Regions from separate parts of the Homo sapiens genome. Here region 1 is linked to region 2. Evidence: fine-mapped expression QTL. A gene starts in region 2. The other region holds a variant in brackets. All regions are shown on one strand. Distances are between the middles of the regions.

What was found.
Region 1: its variant is fine-mapped to the expression of TARBP2 in prostate (GTEx, PIP 0.94).

Annotation. Positions count from the first base shown.
Region 1 is chr12:53,661,485-53,666,810 of GRCh38, forward strand. It overlaps ATP5MC2 (ATP synthase membrane subunit c locus 2), which reads right to left. Exons shown (of 5, transcript NM_005176.7): 5 at 3,686-3,944. The coding sequence ends at 3,830. Among named protein-coding and RNA genes, the nearest start is that of ATP5MC2, 12 kb to the right of the region's middle. The variant C/G (reference allele first, on the strand shown) is at 3,394.
Region 2 is chr12:53,498,714-53,504,081 of GRCh38, forward strand. TARBP2 (TARBP2 subunit of RISC loading complex) reads left to right here and starts at 2,570. Exons shown (of 9, transcript NM_134323.2): 1 at 2,570-2,748; 2 at 3,302-3,471; 3 at 4,314-4,416; 4 at 5,000-5,095. The coding sequence starts at 2,696. MAP3K12 (mitogen-activated protein kinase kinase kinase 12) reads right to left here and starts at 745. Exons shown (of 14, transcript NM_001193511.2): 1 at 714-745. RefSeq lists a silencer at 862-1,111 and an enhancer at 2,205-2,504.

The sequences.
Region 1 (5,326 bases), 160 kb after region 2:
AAGTGATTCTCCTGCCTCAGCCTCCTGAGTAGCTGGGATTACAGGTGTGCGTCACCATGCCCAGCTAATTTTTGTATTTTTAGTAGAGACGGGGTTTCACCATGTTGGTCAGGCTGCTCTTGAACTCCTGACCTCGTGATCCACCTGCCTTGGCCTCCCAAAGTGCTGGGATTACAGGTATGAGCTACCACGCCCGGCCTCATTCATTTTTTTTTTAAAAACAGACAAGGTCTTGTGATGTTGCCCAGGCTGGTCTTGAAATCTTGTGCTCGAGAGAACCTTCCGCCTCAGCCTCCCAAGTAGCTGAGATTATAGGTATGTGTCACCCTGTCAGGTCCAAATCATGATTCTTGAATCTGAGTCTTAGTTTTCTCATCTGTTAAAACACCAACAAAACAAAACACCAAAAACCAAAAAACCACACACCTATTTCACATAAACAAAACAGATATACTAAGAGTATGGCATACGTTTAAAAAAAAAAGTTTTTTTTTTTTTGAGACAGAGTTTTGCTCTGTCGCCCAGGCTGGAGTGCAGTGGCATGGTCTTGGCTCACTGCAACCTCTGCCTCCTGGGTTCAAGCGATTCTCCCACCTCAGCCTCCTAAGTAGCTGGGATTACAGGTGCATACCGCCACACCAAGCTCATTTTTGTACTTTTAGTAGAGACAGGGTTTTGCCATGTTAGCCAGGCTGCTCTCAAACTCTTGATGTCAAGTGATCCGCCCAACTTGGCCTCCCAAAGTGCTAGGATTACAGGCGTGACCCACTGCGTCCGGCCAGGGTAGGACATTCTTAAGGGGTCACTTAAAAAATTCTGCCCACCTTAGCACTTCAAAAGATGAGAGAAAATTTCTCTTTGGTGGTTGGGGGAAGCAGCAGGAATAAATTATCTCTAACTAACCATTTACACTAATAAGAGAAGCCAAGCACTTGGGATGAAGAGGACTAACCTCATGCCTGGTATTCTATCCCTGTCTTCTGCCATTTCTAAAGTGGCTACTTTGATTACAATATGCTAATATTCACAGTGCCTTGAGATAAATGCTTAAAAATATATATTTTTTGAGACAGAGTCTTGCTCTGTTGCCCAGGATGGAGTGCAGTGGTGCGATCTCGGCCCACTGCAACCTCTGCCTCTGGGGTTCAAATGATTGTCCTGCCTCAGCCTCCCGAGTAGCTGGGACTACAGGCGTGCGCCACCATGCCTGGTTAATTTTTGCATTTTCAGTAGAGATGGGGTTTCACCATGTTGGCCAGGATGTCTCCATCTCCTGACCTCATGATCCGCCCGCCTCAGCCTCCCAAAGTGCTGAGATTACAGGCATGAGCCACCACGTCCAGCCAAAAATAAATTTTAAGGATGCCTGGGGACAAAAAGATCTTCCTGTGTTTTACTTTTTCCTCATCAAATGGTGAGAACGCCACGATATCCAGGAATGTCTCCTAAGAATACATGTTGGAAAATGCATGCTATTTTGAGATACGGCCCAATAAAGACAAAGTTTTGGCTGGGCACAGTGGCTCACGCCTGTAATCCCAGCACCTTGGGAGGCTGAGGCGGGCAGATCACCTGAGGCCAGGAGTTCAAGACTAGCCAGGCCAACATGGTGAAACCCTCTCTCTAAACATACAAAAAATTAGCTGAGCGTGGTGGCACGTGCCTGTAATCCCAGCTACTCGGGAGGCTGAGGCAGGAGGATCACTTCAACCCAGGAGGTGCAGGTTGCAGTGAGCCAAGATTGTGCCACTCCACTCCAGCCTGGGTAACAGAATGTAACTCTGTCTCAAAACAACAAAAACAACAAAAAAAGACAAAGTTTCACTGCTTAGAACTTGAGGGACCAGGACAGCATTCTCTACTCACTACTGCGATACTACTACCCTTTTTTTTTCTATTCCTGAATTATACATGAATATTCCTTCATCTCATCTGTGTGGAGACACAGAGCTGCCCCAGGTTCCTGGACACCAACTCAAGCCAAATTACCATTGTTCCTGGTCAGCTTTCTCATCCTGATGCCCTTGGAAGGCCTCAAACTATTAAATCCATCTTGAAAGGGAGGCTGGAGCATGGTTCCTCATTACCGTTGTTCAGCATTGAGGTGATTTTCAAAGGGCACCATTTGCTTCTAATTTTAGGATGGCACAAACCTACTGACGCTCCTCCTGTGGTGCTGAAGAAACACAACTGACTCTTGTAAGAAACTGAGAAGAGGGAAGCAGGTCTTGCTGCCTTCAGCATCCTTGGGTTTTCTCTCTAGATGCCTTCTGGCCACTTTTTTTTTGAGATGGAGTTTCTCTCTTGTTGCCCAGGCTGGAGTCCAGTGGCACAATCTCAGCTCACCACAACCTCCACCTCCCGGGTTCAAGCAATTCTCCTGCTTCAGCCTCCCAAGTAGCTGGGATTACAGGCACGTGCCACCACACCTGGCTACTTTTGTATTTTTAGCAGAGATGGGGTTTCTCCATGTTGGTCAGGCTGGTCTCGAACCCCCGACCTCAGGTGATCTGCCTGCCTCAGGCTCCCAAAATGCTGGGATTACAGGTTGAGTCACCGCCCCTGGCCCAGACTTTTAAAAATTTTGATTCCAGGCCAGGCATGGTAGCTCACGCCTGCAATCCCAGCACTTTGGGAGGCTGAGGCGGGTGCATCACTTGAGGCTGGGTTCGAGACCGGCCTGGCCAACATGGCAAAACCTCGTCTTTACTAAAAATACAAAAAGTAACTAGCTGGGCATGGTGGTGCTCGCCTGTAATCCCAGCTACTTAGGAGGCTACAGCAGGAGAATCGCTTGAACCTGGGAGGCAGAGGTTGCGGTGATCTGAGATTGCACCACAGCAGAGTGAGCCTATCTCAAAAATAAATAAATAAATAAATAAATAAATAAATAAATAATCCAATGAAGGATTTGGAAAAAAATTTTTGAGACAGTCTTGCTCTGTTGCCCAGGCTGGAGTGCAGTGGTGCGATCTCTTTTGGCTCTTTAATGCTCTTTTGGCTGAGGGTGGATGGGAACCAGAAAATAGCTTCATGGAGGTTAAATTTAAGTCTTCAGGGATAACAGAGTTCGAAAAAGAGGAAAGTGAGCAAAGATGCAGGGAAAGAAAGCAGAAATGAGCAGAGAAAGGAAAAGGCAGGAAGATATGGTAAAGACAGGAAAACATCTGAAAAATGACAGTCACTTTATGTAGTGTATAGGACTAAACAGATAAAGCAGAGAAAGTTGAGGTGACTTTTTGAACCATTAACTGATAAAACCAGTCTTATGCTTAAGGAGGATTCACCTGGCAGTGGTAAGGAGAAGTAAATGCTGGAGGGAAGAGACTGGAGGCAGAAGGCCAGTTAAGAGGTTCTTGCAATAGACGAGGTGGATGACAATAAGGGCCTGAG[C/G]CAGGAGAGTGACAGTGGAAACAGAAAGCCTATTAGCCAACATTTTAAGCCAGAACTTGAAGTTGCTACTGACCCCAATCTTCCCAGGCAAGTAGCAGGCCATGCCAGGTGAAAATAATTTAAAATGTTATGCTATTTCAAATAAAGCTTTCCTGAAACAGAATTAAGAAAAAGTGAGCTCAGCCAAATCCATGTTGAGTTTAGCACCATCACTACCCTTCGGGCCTTGTACTCTCACGAAGGCACTCAGCCAACTGTGGAAAAGAAATATACACAGGAGACTCAAGAAACATCTTATTAATACAGTATTTATTTGTCTTTTCTCTGTCAAACCCTGAGCCAACCACGTTCCCCAGGCTGCCTGGGGAGGTATAGGAAAAGGAACACACGGGGCCAACCAGACGCGGGAGAACTATGGGAGGTGGAGACGGCTCCTTCACATGGCAAAGAGGATGAGAAAGGCTACCATCAGACAAAAGAGCCCCATGGCCTCCGAGAGGGCAAAGCCCAGAATGGCGTAGGAGAAGAGCTGTTGCTTCAGAGAAGGGTTCCTGGTAGAAGGAGAAGAGAAAAGACTGAATTTCTAGTTCACACAAAGAAAAGGATAAATATCTAAGATGGGCTCAGGGAGAATCCCCCTCTTCAAGATTATCTCACATAATAAAGAAGCTTTTAGGGTAACACCATCATGCCCAAATTCTTGCCCTGATTCCCCAAAGGCTCTACAGGAACTGAATGAAGGGGGAGCAGGCAATCTAAAATCCTGTAACATGGCCCAGGTATAATCATGACCTTCACTAATGGTTCACCCATCTCATTACCACAAATTAAGACCTCTTGGCCCAGACACTTAATATCCAGGGCCCAAATAGGATGGAAGGGTCTATCTAGAGCAGTGTTTTCAAACTTTAAGCAGAACTCCAATATAGTAAACATCTAAAAGCCAAACTGCAATGGTACAAAAGTAGTGGGGAAATTTTAACGGCTTGGTCTCCCCTTTATTCTCTAAGACAGTCTCTGGGGCATAACCTCAGAATCCTAAGGATTTATGGAACACCGCTCTTCTAGAAGACAAGAGTAAGAGGGACAGATTATGTTCTCTCATTTCAAATAGTCAGAAGATCTGGGGCTTTAAGAAACTACAAATGGGCTGGGTGCGGTGGCTCACACCTGTAATCCCAGCACTTTGGGAGGCCAAAGCAGGCGGATCACTTGAAGCCAGAAGTTGGAGACCAGCCTGGCCAACATGGTGAAACCCCGTCTCTACTAAAAATACAAAAATTAGGCCAGGCGCGGTGGCTCACGCCTGTAATCCCAGCACTTTGGGAGGCCGAGATGAGTAGATTGCTTGAGGTCAGGAGTTCGAGACCAGCCTGGCCAACCTGGTGAAACCCTGTCTCTACCAAAAATACAAAAATTGCTGGGCGCAGTGGCTCATGTCTGTAATCCCAGCACTTTGGGAGGCCGAAGTGGGCAGATCACGAGGTCAGGAAATCGAGACCATCCTAGCTAATACGGTGACACCCTGTCTCTACTAAAAATACAAAAAATTAGCCAGGCGTGTTGGCAGGCGCTTGTAGTCCCAGCTACTCAGGAGGCTGAGGCAGGAGAACGGCGTGAACCCGGGAGGCAGAGGATGCAGTGATCCAAGACCGCAGCCACTGTACTCCAGCCTGGGCGACAGAGCAAGACTCTGTCTCAAAAAAAAAAAAGAAAGAAAAAAAATACAAAAATTAGCTGGGGGTAGCGGTGCGTACCTGTAATCCCAGCTACTTGGGAGGCTGAGGCAAGAGAATTGCTTGAACCCGAGAGGCAGAGGTTGCAGTGAGCTGAGATTACACAGTTGCACTCCAGCCTGGGTGACAGAGTCAGACTCTGTCTCAAAAAAATAAAATAAAATAAAATAAAAAAATAAAAAATTAGCCGGGCGTGG
Region 2 (5,368 bases):
AGAAAGAGGAGGGAGAAACCCACACGTGAATGGGGGAGGGGAGGATGCAACAGCTGGATGGAGGTGAATGCCACAGCTGGAGGTGAATGCCACAGCTGGAGGGGATTAGGAGGATCACAGCTTGAAGGGGAGGGGGACCAACGCCTGGGCATGCAGGAACAGGTGCTCTCTGACTAATCTTCAGGTCCAGCCTGCTGTGTGTGTGTGTGTGTGTGTGTGTGTGTGTGTGTGTGTGTGTGTGTGTGTGTGTGTGTGTGTGTGTGTGTGTGTGTGTGTGTGTGTGTGTGTGTGGAGATGGTGGGTATATCAGTCCTTGCCCTTCCTTTCCTTCCCTAGAGGGGGCCAAAACTCTCCCTCCTCCTTCCCTCTCTCTCTTCCTGAGGATGAGTGGGAGGAGATGTTCTCTTGCCCTCTGTCCTTTAAGTCTGTCCCCCAATCATCCTCCACCCCACCCCAATACGGTCCTTTCCAGCTCTGGAGGCCCTTCGTCTCCAAGCTGGGCCGCGGCATCCCTCCGCTCCATTCCCTTCCTTCCCAGCCCCACAGGCGTCGGGTCCAGGTCCCCAGTTCCTCCATCCCCACAGCCTCAGCATCCCCACGCCATCACCCCGCACCAGGCCACATCTGCATCCCGACCCTCCCTCCACGCCCGGATCCCAGGACCCAGACCCATCCCTGCCCCCCACCCCCCCACAACTCGGCCAGGCTCTCACCTCGGGGGCTCCGCGGCCGCAGCACAAAAGGCGGCGCTGCTGCAGCTCCGCTCCGGATGCTGCTCCCGCCTCCTCCTCCTTCTCCTCCTCCTTCCCTCCTCCCCCCGCTGCCCTCCACCGGACCCGGGGCGCTGTCACAGGCGATGCTCGTGCGGTGTCCGGATGCACGGGTGTCAGCTTCAGCTTTCTGCCCCCACCCCCCGACCCCTAGCCCCGTCCCTGCTCGGCTTGAACTCCCGCTCCTTCCAGGGCCCCCGCCCCTGGCCCCCCGGGACGGACACGCCCTGAGCGGGGGATGCTGCGATGGAGCCGCCGGCCTCTTAAAGGAGCCCGCTGCTGCCATCCGGCGCGCTCCAGGCTCGTACCTGGCCCGCCTGGGCCCCGCGCCTCCCTGCTGGCGGTGTCCTATGGAGGTCCCACCTCAGGCCTCAGGCTGATTCCACAGGAACCCCCTATGACCCGTCTTATAGACTCCTTTCTACATCGGAGAGAGCAGCCCCTCAGTTGGGATCCCTAGCGCTCTGGCATTGCTCCCCCTATCATACCGATCTTGCCAGCTCTCCTTCCCTTGATTGTCACCACTCACTCCAATTTCACCCACTTGGAATTCACTCGGCTCTAGGCCCCATCCTCCTCCAGTGTTCCTGGATGACCCCTCATTATCATTTCAAGATTCCTCTGGACCTCCAACCCCGGCTCAGAGTAAGACATCTTTCTTGACCCCTTCTCAGAACACTCATTAGAACCTTTTTTTTTTTTAATGTGGTCTCTCCCTTTCTCTCTCCAAGGTCACAAGATTTCCCTCAGCCCAGTGGTTGTGCAACTTTGGGGGAGGAGGCAATGGGGCTCTAGGACTAAACAATGCGCGTCTGCTCAACACCCAGATCAGTTGATTAATCTTAGGCGGCCAAAATTCACTTTTGCTCTCTTCAGCTGAGAGACCCAAGACTCATGGAAGAGGGAACAAGACCACCAAGGTGCCTAGTCCTTCTAATCCTGTCGTCCCACATTACAGCCTGATTATCAGGCCCCAGAGGTTTCCTCGCCAGTTAAAGAGAGGTTCACTAGAGCGGTTCTAAAAAGGTTTCACAAAAGAAGCAACACCTGAAGGGAGGTGAAGGACGACCTAGGAAAAGGAAGCAAGTTCTGTGTCACGGAGGCCCAAGGGCAAGGGGCTTAGGCTGTGGGTTGAGGGGACTGTCTGAGACGGACTTAAACCTGCACCAGCTCCAGAGCCCTGCGGAAACAGAGATCGGTCCCCTCCGGCGTCTAGGTAAGGCCCACCCTCCCAGACCGCAAAGAGCCAGGATCCGACGGCAGCCTCTCCGGACCAATCACAACCTTCCTTCATCAAGGAGGCGGGGTCGGGGGGGGCTGACTTTTCCTTGTCTCCGCCCCTTTAGTCGAAGTAACCAATCTCAGTGCACCTAGGGGAAGTAATCGCAATGGGAGTAACCAATGACGCCATGAAGCTTCTCGTGCGTGCTTGACCCTGCCTCTCCAGCTGCGACACAGATGGCGCGCGGGCTCTTGGGTTCTGTAGTTTTCTCGCGATCCAAAAGGCTCCGTGCCCAAGTGAGTCCTTACCGCCTCCCTACCCAGCGGCTTCCCCTCCGCTAGTACGCATGTCCACAGCTTCACGGACCGGGAGAGAGGGGGCGCGGAAGGAAGGAGGCGGGACGGTATTACAAACAAAAAAATACGGCCTTCTCGAGAAGCGACGGCGGAGGGCCCGCTCCTCCCAGAAGGCGGTGCAGCCTGCCCGGGCGAGCCACGCACGCAGAGGGTTGTGGGGCGGATAGCTCCCCTCCAGATGGAGGCTCACGAAGTAGGGTGGGCGGGGGACTCCATATCCCAGCGTGCCCCGCGGCGGGCCCTACCGGCCGCGACTCCGGGCTTGGCCCCGGCCCTAGCTCGTCGGCTGTGTATTGGGGCGCGTGGAGGCTGCAGTCACGGTGGCGCCCGCGGGGACGGAGGAGGGAATGAGTGAAGAGGAGCAAGGCTCCGGCACTACCACGGGCTGCGGGCTGCCTAGGTGAGCCGTCTCGTACCGATTCCTTCAGGGCGAAAAGCGTGGGGCCGTGCGGAGGGAGTAGCGGCGCGGCCCCAGCATGCACCTGGCCTGAGGGTTGTTCCCGGCAAGCACTGGGGCAGTGGGCAGTGGTTCCCGGCGTGCACCGGGGCAGTGGCTGCTGCCTCCAGCTCTAAATAGTTTGGGGTTGGCCCGGTTCCCAGACTGCACTGGAACACTGGGCTTTATGCCCCCACATTCAGTGCATTTGGTGGGTACTGGGTTCCTGGCTTGCACTGTGTCAGGGGGTATGCACTTTCAACCTGCATTGGGGCACAGGATCGTGCCCACCTTAACTGAGGCAGGAGCAATGCATTCTTCCCCCCTTGCTTTGGGGTAGTGGGCCCTACTTTTCCAGCCTGCACCTCCACTTGGAACCCAGCCAATGGATGCTAGACTGTCTGGGGTTCCTTGGACCCTATGTCCCCCATAATGTGCCTAGGTCTGGTATGGAAGTGCTTGGCTAGGTGGGTGCAGAGAGGGGAGGTGTGATGTGGGTCTGTGCCCCTTCCCCCAGTATAGAGCAAATGCTGGCCGCCAACCCAGGCAAGACCCCGATCAGCCTTCTGCAGGAGTATGGGACCAGAATAGGGAAGACGCCTGTGTACGACCTTCTCAAAGCCGAGGGCCAAGCCCACCAGCCTAATTTCACCTTCCGGGTCACCGTTGGCGACACCAGCTGCACTGGTGAGGAAGGCTTGGGCAGCCTGGCTGGGGTGTGCATTTGCAGGTCCCCATGGCTTTGTTTCTTGGAGTCTCTCTCTTCACAGTCCTTTTCTCCAAGGCCAGTGAGGGAAGGAGAGATTTCAGGGGAAAAGCTACTGACTGGATTGGGAGAACAGGGCTGTAAGAAGGTGGGTAGGACGTGGGAGAGTTAGAGGAGCGAGCAGGACTCCCACAGTGATCTGGCAGATCCCCATCACCCTAGAGGAAAAGTAAGAGAAGATAACTGAAATCCCAGTGGAGTATTTGGGGGAGTGAGTGCCTGGCGTGCTGGGCTCTGTTCCCGGTGCTTAACCAAATTCCCGTTTAATTTTAAACCTCAGTCTAACCAATGATTGTAGGTGGTAGTATCCGCCCCCCCGACTCCTCCCCCCGCCCGCCCATGTTGAATATGAGGAAACTGAGTGTTTGAGATAGTAAATGGCTGGTGCATGGTCACATGCCTAGTATGTGGCAGAGTGGGGCTTTTACTCCAGAGCCTACCCTCTCTTATTCCAGCTCTCTGTATTTATTGAGGGAAAAGAAAGTGCTTTGCAAAGGAAATTAAAGCATTTGCGCTCAGAAGTCCACCCAAGGCGTTTGAGCTCAGAAGTCCTGCTTGGCATGGCTTAATTCTGGAAGCTAACGGAAAGATAAGGGCTCTTCCTTCCAGCAATTAGTGAAACACTTCCAGTCTTCAGCAGGGGGAGGTTGGTCAGAAGGGGCTTGATTGATTCCCTCTGGCTACGAGGAGAGAGGCTGTGGGATGCTGGTTTCTTTCCCGTCCTTTCAGTGACCTCCAGTATTGCCCATGCCCCCTCTCTCAGGTCAGGGCCCCAGCAAGAAGGCAGCCAAGCACAAGGCAGCTGAGGTGGCCCTCAAACACCTCAAAGGGGGGAGCATGCTGGAGCCGGCCCTGGAGGACAGCAGGTGAGGGAGGAACCGAGGCATCCCAGAAGCCCTTCAAGGAACCCAGGCCCTGCACCACCCACTCTGCCCCGAGGCCTGGCCAGGTGACACTTAGCCACCCTGACCTGGCCTCTTCCTGAGAGTCCCTCTGGACCTGAACAGGGTTTTCCAGGGCTTCTGCTGCTATGAAGAATTCTTGGGGTGGAGGGGTTGGTTAGCCCCATAGAGGGGTTGTGGCAGTAGGTTGGGGCCTGGGTTAGGGAGGGAGAGGGGTAGAGGCTTGAGGCTAAAGGGAGTTACTCCCCAACATACCTCCTTGTTCTAGCAAGATGTCCTTCCTTCACGCGCAGGTTGGAGTTTGTTGCTCCTCTGGTTCTTGGGTACAAAGATACCCTCTTCTCTGAGACTCTCTTTTCTCAGTCTTTTCGCCGGTGTTTGGCAGCAAAGGATCCGAGGAGGAAGCTGTTGGTTGAGCCTCCCTGATTCTTTGGCTCAATTTGGAAGTTCTCTTAGGGGATTGGGAGGTCAGGAGGACGTGGGTCCCCCACCCCTCTCTTCCCCCTATACATGGGTGTGAATCAAAGGCCCCCTTCCCCTCGGGAAGTTCTTTTTCTCCCCTAGACTCTTCACTGCCTGAGGACATTCCGGTTTTTACTGCTGCAGCAGCTGCTACCCCAGTTCCATCTGTAGTCCTAACCAGGTATCTGTGTCCCCTGACTGCCTGAGGTGGGTGGAGGAAGGGGTTCTGGTTTTTGGTCCCTCAGTCCTTGGACCCAAGCTGGTCAGGCATGAGGAAGTCTGAGAATAAACAGAATGGAATAGTTGGGAACCAGAACTTGAAGAAATCACAGCAGCTGGTAAGCTCTTGGGACAAGAGGTCATTTGTGATTTTCAGACAGCCTTATGAATGATGTCCGACCATGTTTAAGGGTCTTGCAGGCCCCATTTTCTTCTGGGTTGACCACATGTCAGT